Linked DNA regions of Homo sapiens. The protein of the gene in region 3 purifies or fractionates together with the protein of the main gene of each other region. This does not show direct contact. Each region holds a gene or a part of one and is shown on either strand. Other genes may lie near its edges.

The links. The genes of interacting proteins can lie anywhere in the genome.
Region 1: the proteins of SCARB1 (region 3) and TMEM87B fractionate together in Homo sapiens (co-fractionation; one large-scale study listed by BioGRID). This does not show direct contact.
Region 2: the proteins of SCARB1 (region 3) and PRMT2 purify together in Homo sapiens (pull-down; one study listed by IntAct). This does not show direct contact.
Region 4: the proteins of SCARB1 (region 3) and DIPK1A purify together in Homo sapiens (co-immunoprecipitation; one large-scale study listed by IntAct). This does not show direct contact.

Annotation. Positions count from the first base shown.
Region 1 is NC_000002.12:112,079,269-112,082,768, reverse strand, and holds part of TMEM87B (transmembrane protein 87B isoform 1 precursor), read right to left. Parts: intron 1,713-3,500; coding exon 1,651-1,712; intron 1,435-1,650; coding exon 1,251-1,434; intron 1-1,250. UniProt on the Homo sapiens protein: May be involved in retrograde transport from endosomes to the trans-Golgi network (TGN).
Region 2 is NC_000021.9:46,649,174-46,652,673, reverse strand, and holds part of PRMT2 (protein arginine N-methyltransferase 2), read right to left. Parts: intron 3,100-3,500; coding exon 2,935-3,099; intron 869-2,934; coding exon of another isoform or gene 668-868; exon of another isoform or gene 1-667. UniProt on the Homo sapiens protein: Arginine methyltransferase that methylates the guanidino nitrogens of arginyl residues in proteins such as STAT3, FBL, histone H4. Acts as a coactivator (with NCOA2) of the androgen receptor (AR)-mediated transactivation.
Region 3 is NC_000012.12:124,780,365-124,783,864, forward strand, and holds part of SCARB1 (scavenger receptor class B member 1), read right to left. Parts: intron 2,448-3,500; coding exon 2,319-2,447; exon of another isoform or gene 2,308-2,318; intron 338-2,307; exon of another isoform or gene 235-337; intron 1-234. UniProt on the Homo sapiens protein: Receptor for different ligands such as phospholipids, cholesterol ester, lipoproteins, phosphatidylserine and apoptotic cells. Receptor for HDL, mediating selective uptake of cholesteryl ether and HDL-dependent cholesterol efflux.
Region 4 is NC_000001.11:92,844,065-92,846,462, forward strand, and holds part of DIPK1A (divergent protein kinase domain 1A), read right to left. Parts: intron 2,119-2,398; exon of another isoform or gene 1,995-2,118; intron 132-1,994; coding exon 1-131.

The DNA.
Region 1 (3,500 bases), on a different chromosome or scaffold from region 3:
TCTCTACATTCAGGAATGCTTCAATTCTAAGCAGCAGATCTACCCTTCCTTCATCATCTGGTTTAGAGCACACATGCACGCACACGCACACGCACACACACACACACACACCATAAAAAACTTCTTACAGAGTAGTGATATCTCTAATATGCATCCTGGATGTTTGTCCTTTCTTTATTCTTTGGTACATGTCCTTTTAAACTTTTTATTTGGGGAAATTTCAAATACTCCCAAAAAGAGAGAAAGCAATATAATGATTTCCCTTGTGCCCATCATGCAGCTTCAATAATTAGCAACGTTACGCCAAATTTGTTTCATCTATAGTCCAATTCATTTTTTTTCTAGAGTATTTCAAAATAAGTAACAGACACATAGTGCCAGCTACTCCAGAGGCTGAGGTGGGCAGATCATTTGGGCCTGGAGGTCGAGGCTGCAGTGAGCAAAAATCGCACCACTGCACTCTAGACCGGGCAACAGATCAAGACCTTGTCAATCAATCAATAACAGACAAAATCATGCCCTTTGAAGATCTGCACCAAGATCATTTGTAACTGGTCACTCAGAAGTACACTCTTGAGCACCTTCAACCTCTCTGAGCTCTCTCTTTCCAAAGCTTTGGTGGGAGAGTTGTACCTTTACTTCTCTGGCCTGAAATCCACTTTCTAGAAGTCTGGGGCACACATCTGAGGATGCCCAGCTGTATGGCCTGCCTGCTTCACATATTCCACTGCGTAAACTGTGATGGTGCCTCCACTGGTTATATGAAGATCTTTGTGGGAGTAAAGAGGTGGGGAGAGCACAAGGAGGCTGCAGGCACCATCCCTTCCAGCACCCCTGATTTTACTCCCTGCGGCCAATTTCCTTTCGTTTTTTGAAGGAGAAGGAGAAAGAAAAGAAGATGTGGGGGGAAGGAGAAGTATGTTAAAAGGATTGACAGCACCTGAAGTCTCCCTGTCCCGAACTTTGTGCTGTTTTAATCCAAGCTGAACCTTAGGAAACGGGACTTTTATTTTTCCCAGGAGGAAAGTGAGGGGAAATTTAGCAAGAAGGAAAACAGATAATGAAGAGAAGACACATGCTTGGCCAGATCAGAGGCCTACTCTGACATTCTTTCCTTGGCTTTCCTTCTCTTCATCTATAATATATCTGTTTCCAAACCACTGTTCAGAAGGGGGCCTCCCACTGCTCTGCTCATAAATACTGGGGAACTCTTAGATCATACTATATTTACAGAGACAGTCAAAACTTACTTGACAGTCCAGTGTTGCTGATGTTTTGGTATTCACTATAAAAAACTGCTTTTTCAAGCATTCCCAAAAAAATAACAGCTGCAATCCAGAACTGGATTCTTAATATATCTTTCCAATAACAGGCAGACCACGTCAGCCAGAGTATGCCATATAATATATAAACAATACACATCACCATGTAAAACTGTAGGAAGAGAAGCAATTTTAGTCAGTTAAGCCTTTTGGTCATTTGAAAGTTGGCACTTCTACATTCAAGTATCCAACCCTTCATTTTCCAGTCACTCTGGAACCAGAAATACAGGATATGTCAAAGCATTAACTACTGAGGAATTACTACCACAAAGCTCTTAGGGTATAAAATTCATTTTTTAAAAAGGAAAAAATGATGAGAAATACTCACAATCATTAGGGGCCAATCTGATGCAGAGATATATCCATGAGGCCCAATCATAGAAAGAGAAACTAGGATAGAGAAGAAGAGAGAGTTAATTAACAGTCAGTCTTAAATCTTTAAATGTAAGTTCATTTCCCAGAAGGCTCCAAGAATACAAACCACACTAACAAATGCTGAATTTGTATGTAGCACATACATGGTATTGGACAATTAGTATTTGTTTGATTATGTAACCTTACCAAGATACCTTTACTGTAAGACCAGAAACTGTAAAACTGCTAGAAGAAAACATAGGGAGAACACTACATAACACTGGTCTGAGCAATGATTTTTTGGATTTGATCCCAAAAGCACGGGCAACAAAAGCAAAAATAGACAAATGGGATTACATCAATATAAAAAGCTTCTTTGCACAAAGGAAACAATTAACAGTAGACATAGACAACTTAGGTACTGGGAGATAAAATTAGCAAGCCATATATCCAAGAAGGAGTTAATATCCAAAATACATAAGCTCAAACAACTCAATAGCAAGAAAACAAAAAACCCAATTAAAAGAATGGGCAGGCCGGGCGTGGTGGCTCACCCCTGTAATCCCAGCACTTTGGGAGGCCAAGGCGGGCGGATTACGAGGTCAGGAGATCGAGACCATCCTGGCTAACACGGTGAAACACCGTCTCTACTAAAAATACAAAAAATTAGCCGGGCGTGGTGGCGAGCACCTGTAGTCCCAGCTACTCGGGAGGCCGAGGCAGGAGAATGGCGTGAACCCAGGAGGTGGAGCTTGCAGTGAGCCGAGATCACGCCACTGCACTCCAGCCTGGGCGACAGAGCAAGACTCCGTCTCAAAAAATAAAAAAAGATAAAAAAAATTAAAAAAAAAAGAATGGGCAAGGGGCTGGGCGTTACAGCTCACACCTGTAATCCCAGCACTTTGGGAGGCCAAGGTGGGCAGATCACTTAAGGTCAGGGGATCGAGACCAGCCTGACCAACATGGTGAAACCCGTCTCTAATAAAAACAGAAAAATTAGCCAGGTGGGGTGGCGTGCACCTATAATCCCAGCTACTTGGGAAGCAGAGGCAGGAGAATCACTTGAACCCAGGAGGTGGAGGTTGCAGTGAGCCGAGATCGTGCCACCGCACTCCAGCCTGGGTGACAGAGCGAACTCCTGTCTCAAAAAAAAAAAAAAAAAAAAAGGCAAGGGACCTAGATGTTTCTCAAAAGAAAACATATAAATGAGCAAAAGATATTAATACATGAAAAATGCTCAACATCACTAGTCATTAGAGAAATGCAAATTAAAACCCCAATATCATTTCACACCTGTCAGAATGGCTTTTATCAAAAAGATGAAAGAGAGTAAGTGCTGATGAAGATGTGGAGAAAAGGGATGCTTTGTGAAAATGTCAATTAGTACAGCCATTATAAAAAACAGTATGGAAGGTCCTCAAAAAACTAAAAACAGAATTACCATATAATCCAGTAATCCCACTTTACTATTTACCCAAAAGATCTAAAATCAGTTTGTCAAAGAGCTGTCTGCACCCCCATGTTCACTGCAGCAGTATGAACAATAGCTAAGTTATGGAATCAAGGTAAGTGTCCATCAACAGATGAATGGATGAAGAAAATGTGTATATATACACAATGAAATACTATTCAGCCTTTAAAAAGAAGAAAATTCTGTCATTTGCAACAACATGGATGGAACTGGAAAACACTGTGCTGAGTGAAATGAGTCAAGCACAGAAAGACAAATACTGCACATTTTCACTTATATGTGGAATCTAAAACAATTGAACTCCTAATACGAGAGCAGAATGGTGGGTACAGAGGCTGGGAGGTAGGAGGCAT
Region 2 (3,500 bases), on a different chromosome or scaffold from region 3:
CTATTTTCCTTCAAAAGGCTTTACCAATTTACACTGCCAAAAAAAGGGCATGGCGGTGCACACTTCCCCACAACCTCAGCATCGGGAGCATCAGATATTAGAGGATTGCTCAGCCAACTTCCCAGGTCAAAACTATTACAGTTACTTTCAAATTGTTGGTGGCATTGAACAACGTTCAAGCTCCTGGCCTCTGGCATTTCTCTGCCTTTCTAGTCCCTGCTCACCTTCCATGAGGTTACCTTTATCTTATGCTTTTCTTATTGCAACTCTTTACGTCACACAATTCTTTAGCTGCAATTCTTTAGTTGCATTTACCATTTAATAGTTTTTAGCTGTGCTAATGTATGAAGGGGAATTTTTTGTCAAGTATTTTATTTGACAGCTTCATTATGAACTTGGTTCTTAGAAAAACCTTTCCCATCCTAACAACAAATAAACTTGTAGCAATTTTTTTGTTTCCTCCTTTTCTTAAATATTTAACTCTTGAGCCCATCTGAGGTTTATTTTAGCAGATGGTGTGAAGAAGGGCCTCTTTTCTCCAAATCAGTCGTTCCAGCACCATCTCTGAACAACTACATGCCCTTGCTGCACTGACTGAAAGCTGCCCCTCCTATGCTAAACGCACATGCACTCTTCTCTGTCTTCAGACTTTTACTACATGTCAGCGTCAGAGTAGGAAGATGGGCCAGGAGAGATGAAGGCCTGAGGGCTGAGGGGCTCTGAGAACAGGCAGACAGCAGGCAAGGAGGACATGAAGAGGGACAGACGCACAGGTGCAGGGGAGAGGCAGACAGCAGGCCAGGAGGACGTGAAGAGGGCCAGACGCACAGGTGCAGGGGAGAATGCGGCAGCTCAGGAGAGGCGCAGCCTGGGGACGGAAAGTGAAGGTGGGTACAACCGCACCAACGACTCCCAGATTCATACCCTCCCTCCCTCAAATCCGACCAACCCTGTGCCCCAACAACTATCGCCATAGGAACTCTTGCAGCCCCGTCTGCCCTGTTCTGGGCCTCCTTGGCCTGAGTAATGATGGTGGTGGTCCCTCAGTCTCCCTGGGGGGGAGTCTGAAGTCGGAACTGCCTCAAGCCCTCACCTGCAAAGCTCCGCCTTCCCCCTCCACTGCCTGCACTGGAGAAAACCACCACATGGTCCTGTCTGACTCACCCCAGCACTCCTCCAAATGTCCTGCTCAGGGTGGCCCCTCCAGGCCATCGCCCACCGAGACCCCAGGCCATGTCCCCACTGCCCAACCAATAGCTGGCCCTGCACATCGGATGGGCATCCTATGTTCAAGACCCACACAGATGTCCACCCTCCCCAGGGCCCTCCCTACCCCGGCCCCCAGCCAGTCCTGGTGGCCCACTCCCTGCGGCTCAGGGCTGGGAGGCACCGTCCTGCTCACGCCAGGCCCCCATCAGCACATCCTGCCTGCTGGCCCTGCTCTGCATCCCCCACACCTGCCCCATGCCAAGCCCTGGCTCCTGCATCCTGACAATAAAGCCATGGTCAGTCCTGGAAGTCTGTGCACCTCCCACACAGAGGGGCCTCCCCTCACACAGAATGTCCCAGGCCTCTCTGCATGCTGGGGCTGGACCACAGCCAGTCCCTGGCCTCCAGTCCCGGCCACACATACCCAGGGGCCTCCAAAACACAGCCCACCTCTTACTCCATCACTCACACACCAGTGGCACTCCCTTCGGTGTCCAGGACGTGGCACAAAGTCCTCAGACACACAGTTCCCTACATCTGGCCTCTGCCTCCCTGATGCAACACAGTCTGGCCAATCCGGCCACTGGGCAGCCCTGGAACACGGCAACACGGTGAACACAGTGGCTACTCCTCTCCCCTCCCTCTGCCCCACGTCCCTCCTGTGTCCCTCTCACCCAATCCAGGGCACAGCCGGACACTCCAGCAGCCAGGCTTCCCCGTATCACCGCCCACACAACCTTGGCCTCACCACAGCCTCACTCCTGCTCTGTCCTCTTTTTGTCCCCGTGGCCGGGGCACCAGCTGTCAACAGATACTTATTGAATGGGCGCTGCTGTTCAGGGCAAAGGCAAATGCCCCTTCAGGGGGTAGGAGTGGAGCCCGTTTCTCCTGTGTGTCATCTTATGGCTCCACAGATGTTATTAATAAGCCAAGTCACAGCATGGACATTGAGTCTATTTACATTTATCTTCTGACAACAAAATTTCAACAGGACTAAAAGCCCAATGCCATCTGTTACCAGGGGAAACCGTTTCCTGGAAAGCAGCAGCCATACTCCACACTCCTTCACCCAGACCCCATCTTTCTGGGTCTCTACACTGAGACAAAGTTTCAGGTTGGGATGCTCCACTACAATGTCCTGTGTCCCAGGATGCTGAGCCCAGGAAGACAGCGCGGGCAGACAGCATCCAGCCACACTCCCGTCAACTTCCCTCCAAGCAGACAGCGTTTGTGCAGGGCATATTCACAGGCAACCAGAAAACAGTCCACTTCCACCCACATGTGAAACTCAGGGTGAGCAACCCTGACAGGACAGGCATATGCTGGCCCTACAGATGCCCAAGTGGCTTCACAGCATCACTGGGGCCAGTCTAAGGCGAGGAGACCCTGGCCAGGGACGAAGGCCCTACTGGCATTAAAGAAACAGCCTTACCTGTTAGGCACAGGATTTTTACAGATCCCCGAGGAGAACACAGTTCATGTAAATCACTCATGAAAATGTTACATGAACTTTGACTTAAATTTCTCATAAAGGCATTTTTTAAATCAGGTGAAAATTCAAGACACTGAGCCAATGTCCACACAAGAAATTAATTAGACCTCACATTAGGGAAAACATCAAAATGAATCACGCACGACCCTTGAGATCCTGAGGTTGGCCCAGCCGAGCCCGTGCTCAGAAGCCCCCCAGCTCCGGCCCCCAGCTGCCCGCACGCCCGCCCTCACCAGCAGGCAGGTCCCCATCCACTCAGACACCAGCACGTCCACCTTCTCGGGCAGCACCACATCCTCCACCTTCTGCTGGTACACGGTGATGATGTCAGCAAAGCCGTTCTGCAGGACCAGCTGCCCCGTGTGCTGTGCCATCTCACTGGCCTCCACCGCGTACACCTGCAGCAGCAGAGGCACCGTCAGCGTACATCCGGCCGGCACACGGCCCGTCATCTACTCTCCTGAGTCACAACCAGCATCACGAGAAATGGTCAATGACACAAGAGGGAAGCAGCATTCCAGACAGCAGAGGCAGCGAGGACTGGCCACACCTGCCCCTCCAGGGGCACCCAGAAAGGAGCCGCCTCTAACCCTCCCAACTGCCCCCACCTCCCGGACAAGACACAGACGCAGGGCTGCAAGTGGATGGAAGACTCGCATGCCCGAGCCGGCTGCCACACGCACAGCAATCTTAATCCATGACCAGCACAGCAACTTCTTAGCACCCAAGTGACAATGCTGGTCTGTGCCACATCTGAGGCCTGTCAGACAATTTCAAACCCAGGTTCTCAGGGAAGGGT
Region 3 (3,500 bases):
AAAAATATCTGTTTTCCCCCCTTCTCCCAAGCAAGGCAGCCCCTCAGGGCCATCCCCATACCCAGGTACAGGGCAAAGGTGTGGGGCCTTCCCCAGGGACTCAGGCCTGAGACTCAGAACAGGACCCAAGAGGGGGCAGCAGTGGCCTGCAGGGGGACCACCAGCCACCACCCAGGTGCCCACCCCAAGCTGCAGCCAGCCACTGGAGGACACTGCATTCCCCGTTTCACATGCCTAGGGGATCCGGGGCGCTGGGCTGGGCTCCAGACCTTCCAGGAGGCAGGGCAGGAGGGTCTTTTCAAGTCAAACACTTGTCTCATCACCTAAAAATTGGATTCTGTTGGCAAAATAAAGGGGAGACCCCAGTTTTGTTTGGGGGGCAGATGACAGGACATCCTGGTTATGTCCAGGGAGGTGCAGCCATGGGGCCCTGGCCACTCTATCTATGCTAAAAGTGAAAAGCTCCCTGCTCTACACTGACCAGGCCCTGACCAGCCCCTGACCAGCCCCCACCCCTGCACCCTGGGAATCCCAGGCAAGTTTCTGCAGAAGGGAGCAGTGGCTGGAAGGAGCAGGCACACCGATGGGGCCAAACCGTGCACAGCACTACGGTGTCCTGGAGGAATCCTGGGAGAGAGGAAAGGAAGGGGGTCCAGGCAGAAGGCCTTGCCCCCAAGCCTGGGGACCCTGTCCCAGGGAGGATCCTCTCCTAATATTAACACTCCACCCCAACATGGTCAGACTCCACCCCCTACTCCCAGATGGACAGGAAGGGCGCCCCAGAGCTTGACTGGGACACAGGGCTGGCAGCGCCTGCCAACGCCAACAGGCTCCTGCCTGCCCACCCCTTGGCATTTTCTTTTTCATCTCCTTGTCCAGCCCTGGCAAGTGAGATGAGTTAGAGACAGCCAAGTGGCCCCAAAGAGTGGGGCTGCTGCCTCACGTCCCCACAATGTGGCTCCCTGGAAAGCTATTTTCACCCAAGTAGGCCTAGCCTCAGAAGCTCTTGAGGGCAGCACATTTTTCAGAAACTAAAATAACAGCTATTATCAGAGGCACCACGGTAGAGCGACTCATCCCTGCCCAACCCCAAGTTGTAGGGCCTGCAGCTCTGCCCGTCACCTCCCCTGGCAAGGACACCATCCCTGGCCACGGCTCCCCCATGACCTCAGCCCTACAGGAACCTGGCCAAGGAAACGCAGAACCCCCAGGGGCATCAGCCTATGTTCCCAGCAGATAGGGCGGCCACATAAAATCAGAACGCCTAGTTAAATGTGAATTTCAGGTGAACTACAGACAGGTTTTCAGGATACGTGCGTCCTATCATTGCACAGGAACACAATAAAAATTACTTATTGCTTACCAGAAATTCATATTTAACAGGCACCCTTCTGTTGTTTCTTGTGTTTCGTTTGTTTGTTTGTGCTCAATCTGGCAATCCTACCCTCAGATCCAGTCCCAGGTATACAGTTGGTGTTCAGTTGATGCCTACATTCTTTGTTCTTGGTCAGTCATCCCAGATGTATTTATTTATTTATTTATTTTAGTTTTATTTTTTTGAGACGGAGTCTCACTCTGTCACCCAGGCTGGAGTGCAGTGGCACGATCTTGGCTCACTGCAACCTCCATCTCCCGGGTTCAAGCGATTCTCCTGCCTCAGCCTCCTGAGTAGCTGGGATTACAAGCGTGTGCCACCACACCCAGCTAATTTTTTTTGTATTTTTAGTAGAGACAGGTTTTCACCATGTTGGCCAGGCTGGTCTTGAACTCCTGACCTCAAATGATCCACCTGCTTCGGCCTCCCAAAGTGCTGGATTACAGGTGTGAGCCACCGCACCTGGCCAGTCATCCCAGATTTAGATCAATGCCTCTCAAACATGTTTCTACATCAGAATCTCATTAGGGTCCATTAAAATACAGATTCCAGGGTCCCACCATGATCCTATTCCAGAAGGCTAGAAGGCTGCCCAGGGATCTGCATTTCTAGCAGACTTCCCCAGGGGAGTCTATTGCACAAGAGATTCCAGAAGCAGCAGGCCTAAGCCTTGCTCCTGTCTTTCTAATGTGACCTTGCAAATAGGCACCAGCCCACAGAATACAAGTTGCCCTCTGGGATCAAAAAAACTGCTATTCACTCAGAACATAGGAAGGGCAGTTTCTCCAAAAGCAAAATACACAAATATGCATCTTCAGTCTGTAGACACTCCAGGTGAAGTTGAGGCTGAAGGAATGAGCAGGACCCCAAATGTTTTAAGCCGCCAGCATTCTACTTGATATGGGAGGGGGCGGGGAGGCGCACGGCATTACCTGGTACCCACCTACAGTTTTGCTTCCTGCAGCACAGAGCCCTTGGGAGCTGATGTCATCAGGGATTCAGAATAGGCCTGAATGGCCTCCTTATCCTTTGAGCCCTTTTTACTACTACTCCAAAATAAATAGCATTTCTCCTAGAAGATAACCAAGCTAATTTATAGTTGACGTTGAAGCCACATAAAAATGGTTTTACACGGTTCTTCAATTTGCAAAAGGCAAAGAGGAAACAGGAAAGGCACATAAGTTTAGAGTCCAACAACCCTCAACGATTGCAGGTGGCTGAGATGTGGGGAGCTGCCGCTCTTAGACATAAGTACAAGCATCTTCAGGAAACACACCTGGGAGGTGGACAAGCCAAGCTGAAAAGGGCTCGTCCACTTGAAAATTTAAGCCAGCGAGGAAGCAAGGTGGGGAGATGGGCCATGGAGACCGACAACCAGTGGACTTAGCTGGGGGGCTGTTTAAAATCAACGAGGAACAGATTGTTCTGTTAAAATACTTTTGATTTATTTTAAAAGAATGACTTGAGAAGAAAAAATTACTGCTTTTTTTAATTTTTGAGACAGGATCTCACTCTGTTGTCCAGGCTGGAGTGCAATGGTGCGATCATGGCTCACTGCAGCCTCCAACTCCTGGGCTCAAGTGATCCTCCCACCTCAACCTCCCGAGTAGCTCAGATTACAGGCAAGAGCCACCATACCTGGCTCAAGTGGAAAATTTCTCTAAAGAGAAATTAAAATATGTTGAGTTTACCCGCATGTGATTTTTTTTTTTTAAATCAGGACAAATTACATAAAAACTGATAAGGCCGGCCAGGCACAGTGGCTCACACCTGTAATCCCAGAACTTTGGGAGGCCAAGGCGGCAGATCATGAGGTCAGGAGTTCAAGACCAGCCTGGCCAACATGGTGAAACCCCGCCTCTACTCAATATACAAAAATTAGCCAGGCATGGTGGCAGGTGCCTGTAATCCCAACTGCTCGGGAGGCTGAGGCTGAGGCTGAGGCTGAGGCTCCCACTTGAACCCGGGAGGTGGAGGTTGCAGTGAGCCAAGATTGTGCCACTGCACTCCAGCCTGGGCAACACAGCAAGACTCCATCTCAAAAAAGAAACCAAAAAAAATAAAAATAAAAAAACAAAAAAAACTGGTAAGGTCCTGCTACATCAAAACACACATAATGGGATAA
Region 4 (2,398 bases), on a different chromosome or scaffold from region 3:
TCATTCAGTTGAAGAAGTGCCCATGCCGACTTTGCTTCTCCCAAGGAAACCTGGCCATCTTTGTCTCCATCAGCCACCGTCAAGATGAGATTAACCAGTTCAGAGAGGTTTCCTTGGTCACCCAATTTTGCCTGTCAAGAATTTGGCTAGTTACACAGAAGGAATGAAAAATACCTCCCATGCAACATACTAAGTTTCTTTACGGGCATTATTAACCATGCCAGAAATAATCTTGGTACTGAATCCCCAAACAGGAACTTAATGTATTATATCTCCAAATATTTATGATACTTCCTAAGTGAACTAGAACCATGCTTTATGTAACTGCAGTAAAACCCACTTTAAAATACTTGTCTGTTTGTTAGGAAATGGCCACTAACTCCCCTGTCCCCTTCAGGCCCCTTAGATAGTTAACCAACAATGTAATTATTCCTCATTCATACATTAAAAAACCACCGCCTCATATGTGGACTTGAAAAATTGTACTGTAATGTACTTACATCAAAGTTACAATAAGGGTCAACTAAAAATTATTTTCCTTTTTTTAGAGATGGGGATCTCACTATGTTGCCCAGGCTGGTCTCAAACTCCTGGGCTCAGGTGATCCTCCTACCTCAGCCTCCCAAAGTGCTCGGATTACAGGCATGAGCCAGCATGCCTGGCCTAATTATTTTATCCTATTTTGTATTTATCACAATAATTATTTTGTTCAAATAGTAGTATTACAATAATGAAGATTAAAAAGTATTTCCGTTAGTCTGAAATACATGTAAAATGGCCAAATAAAAAATTTGAGTGAAAATAAAAGAGCAATGAAAATAAAACTTTTTTCTAAAACTTTGTTTTATTTCTATTTAATCTATATATTAGTATTTCTTTTTTTTTTTTTTTTTTTTTTGAGACGGAGTCTCGCTCTTTCGCCCAGGCTGGAGTGCAGTGGCGCGATCTCAGCTCACTGCAAGCTCCACCTCCCAGGTTCACGCCATTCTCCTGCCTCACCCTCCCGAGCAGCTGGGACTACAGGCGCCTGCCACCACGCCCAGCTAATTTTTTTTTGTATTTTTAGTAGAGACGGGGTTTCACCATGTTAGCCAGGATGGTCTCGATCTCCTGACCTTGTGATCCATCCGTCTCGGCTTCCCAAAGTGCTGGGATTACAGGCGTGAGCCACCGCGCCCGGCCTATATTGGTATTCCTTTAAATTAAAAAAATAATTTGCAGAGTACCGTTTTTTTTTTTTTTTTTTTTGCATAGGAAGAACTGCTATGCTTTTTTTCCCGTTAGTTTTAGTGACATGTAATAACTACAAATTTATGGGATACTGATGGGCACAATTGCTCAAGCCAGTAATTCCAGCACTTTGGGAAGCCAAGGTGGGCAGATAGCTTGAGCTCAGGAGTTCTAGACCCGCCTGGGCAACATGGTGAAACCGTGTCTATGCTAGAAAAAAAAAAAAAAAAAAAAACCGTCTCTGCTGAAAAAAAAAAAAAAATGCTGGATGCGGTGGCTCACGCCTGTAATCCCAGCGCTTTGGGAGGCTGAGGCGGGTGGATCACCATGAGGTCAGGAGTTCGAGACCAGCCTGGCCAAAATAGTGAAATCCCATCTCTACTAAAAATACAAAAATTAGGTGTGGTGGCGGGTGCCTGTAATCCCAGCTACTCGGGAGGCTGAGGCAGGAGAACTGCTTGAATCTGGGAGGCAAGGTTGCAGTGAGCTGAGACCATGCCACTGCACTCCAGCCTGGGCAACAGAGCGAGACTCCGTCTAAAAAAAAAAAAAATTAGCCAGGTGCGGTGGTGCGCCTGTGATCCCAGCTACTTGGGGGGCTGAGGCAGGAGGATGGCTTAAACCCAGGAGGCTGAGGCTGCAATGAGCCGAGATCATGCCACTGCACACTCCAGCTTGGGCACCAGGGCAAGACCCTGCCAAAACAAAACAAAACAAATAACCAACCATCTTTTAAAAAAAGAAAGAAAGAAAAAAAATCCCCAGGCCTCCTGGTGCTTACCCCAGGCTGTGTTCTTATACTGACTGTATAGAATGAGGAGGTGAACTCCCATGTACACCTCAGCCCAGGCCCTGCGCCTTGTCTGTATTGTGAACGGGAGCACACAGAAAAAAAATTCATGGGATACATAGTGATATTTCAATACACACATACAATTTGTAATGATCAAATCAAGGTAATTAGCATATTTATGTCTCAGTTATCATTGTGTTGTGAACATTCACAATCCTTTTAGTTTTTTGAAAATAACCAAAAATTATTAATCCCTTTACCCTATAGTGCTATAGAACACTAGAACTTATTCTGCCTATCTAGCGGTAATTTTGTATCTGTTAACCAACCTCTCCTTATTCTCCTCTCCTCTGTACCCTTCCCAGCCTCTAATAG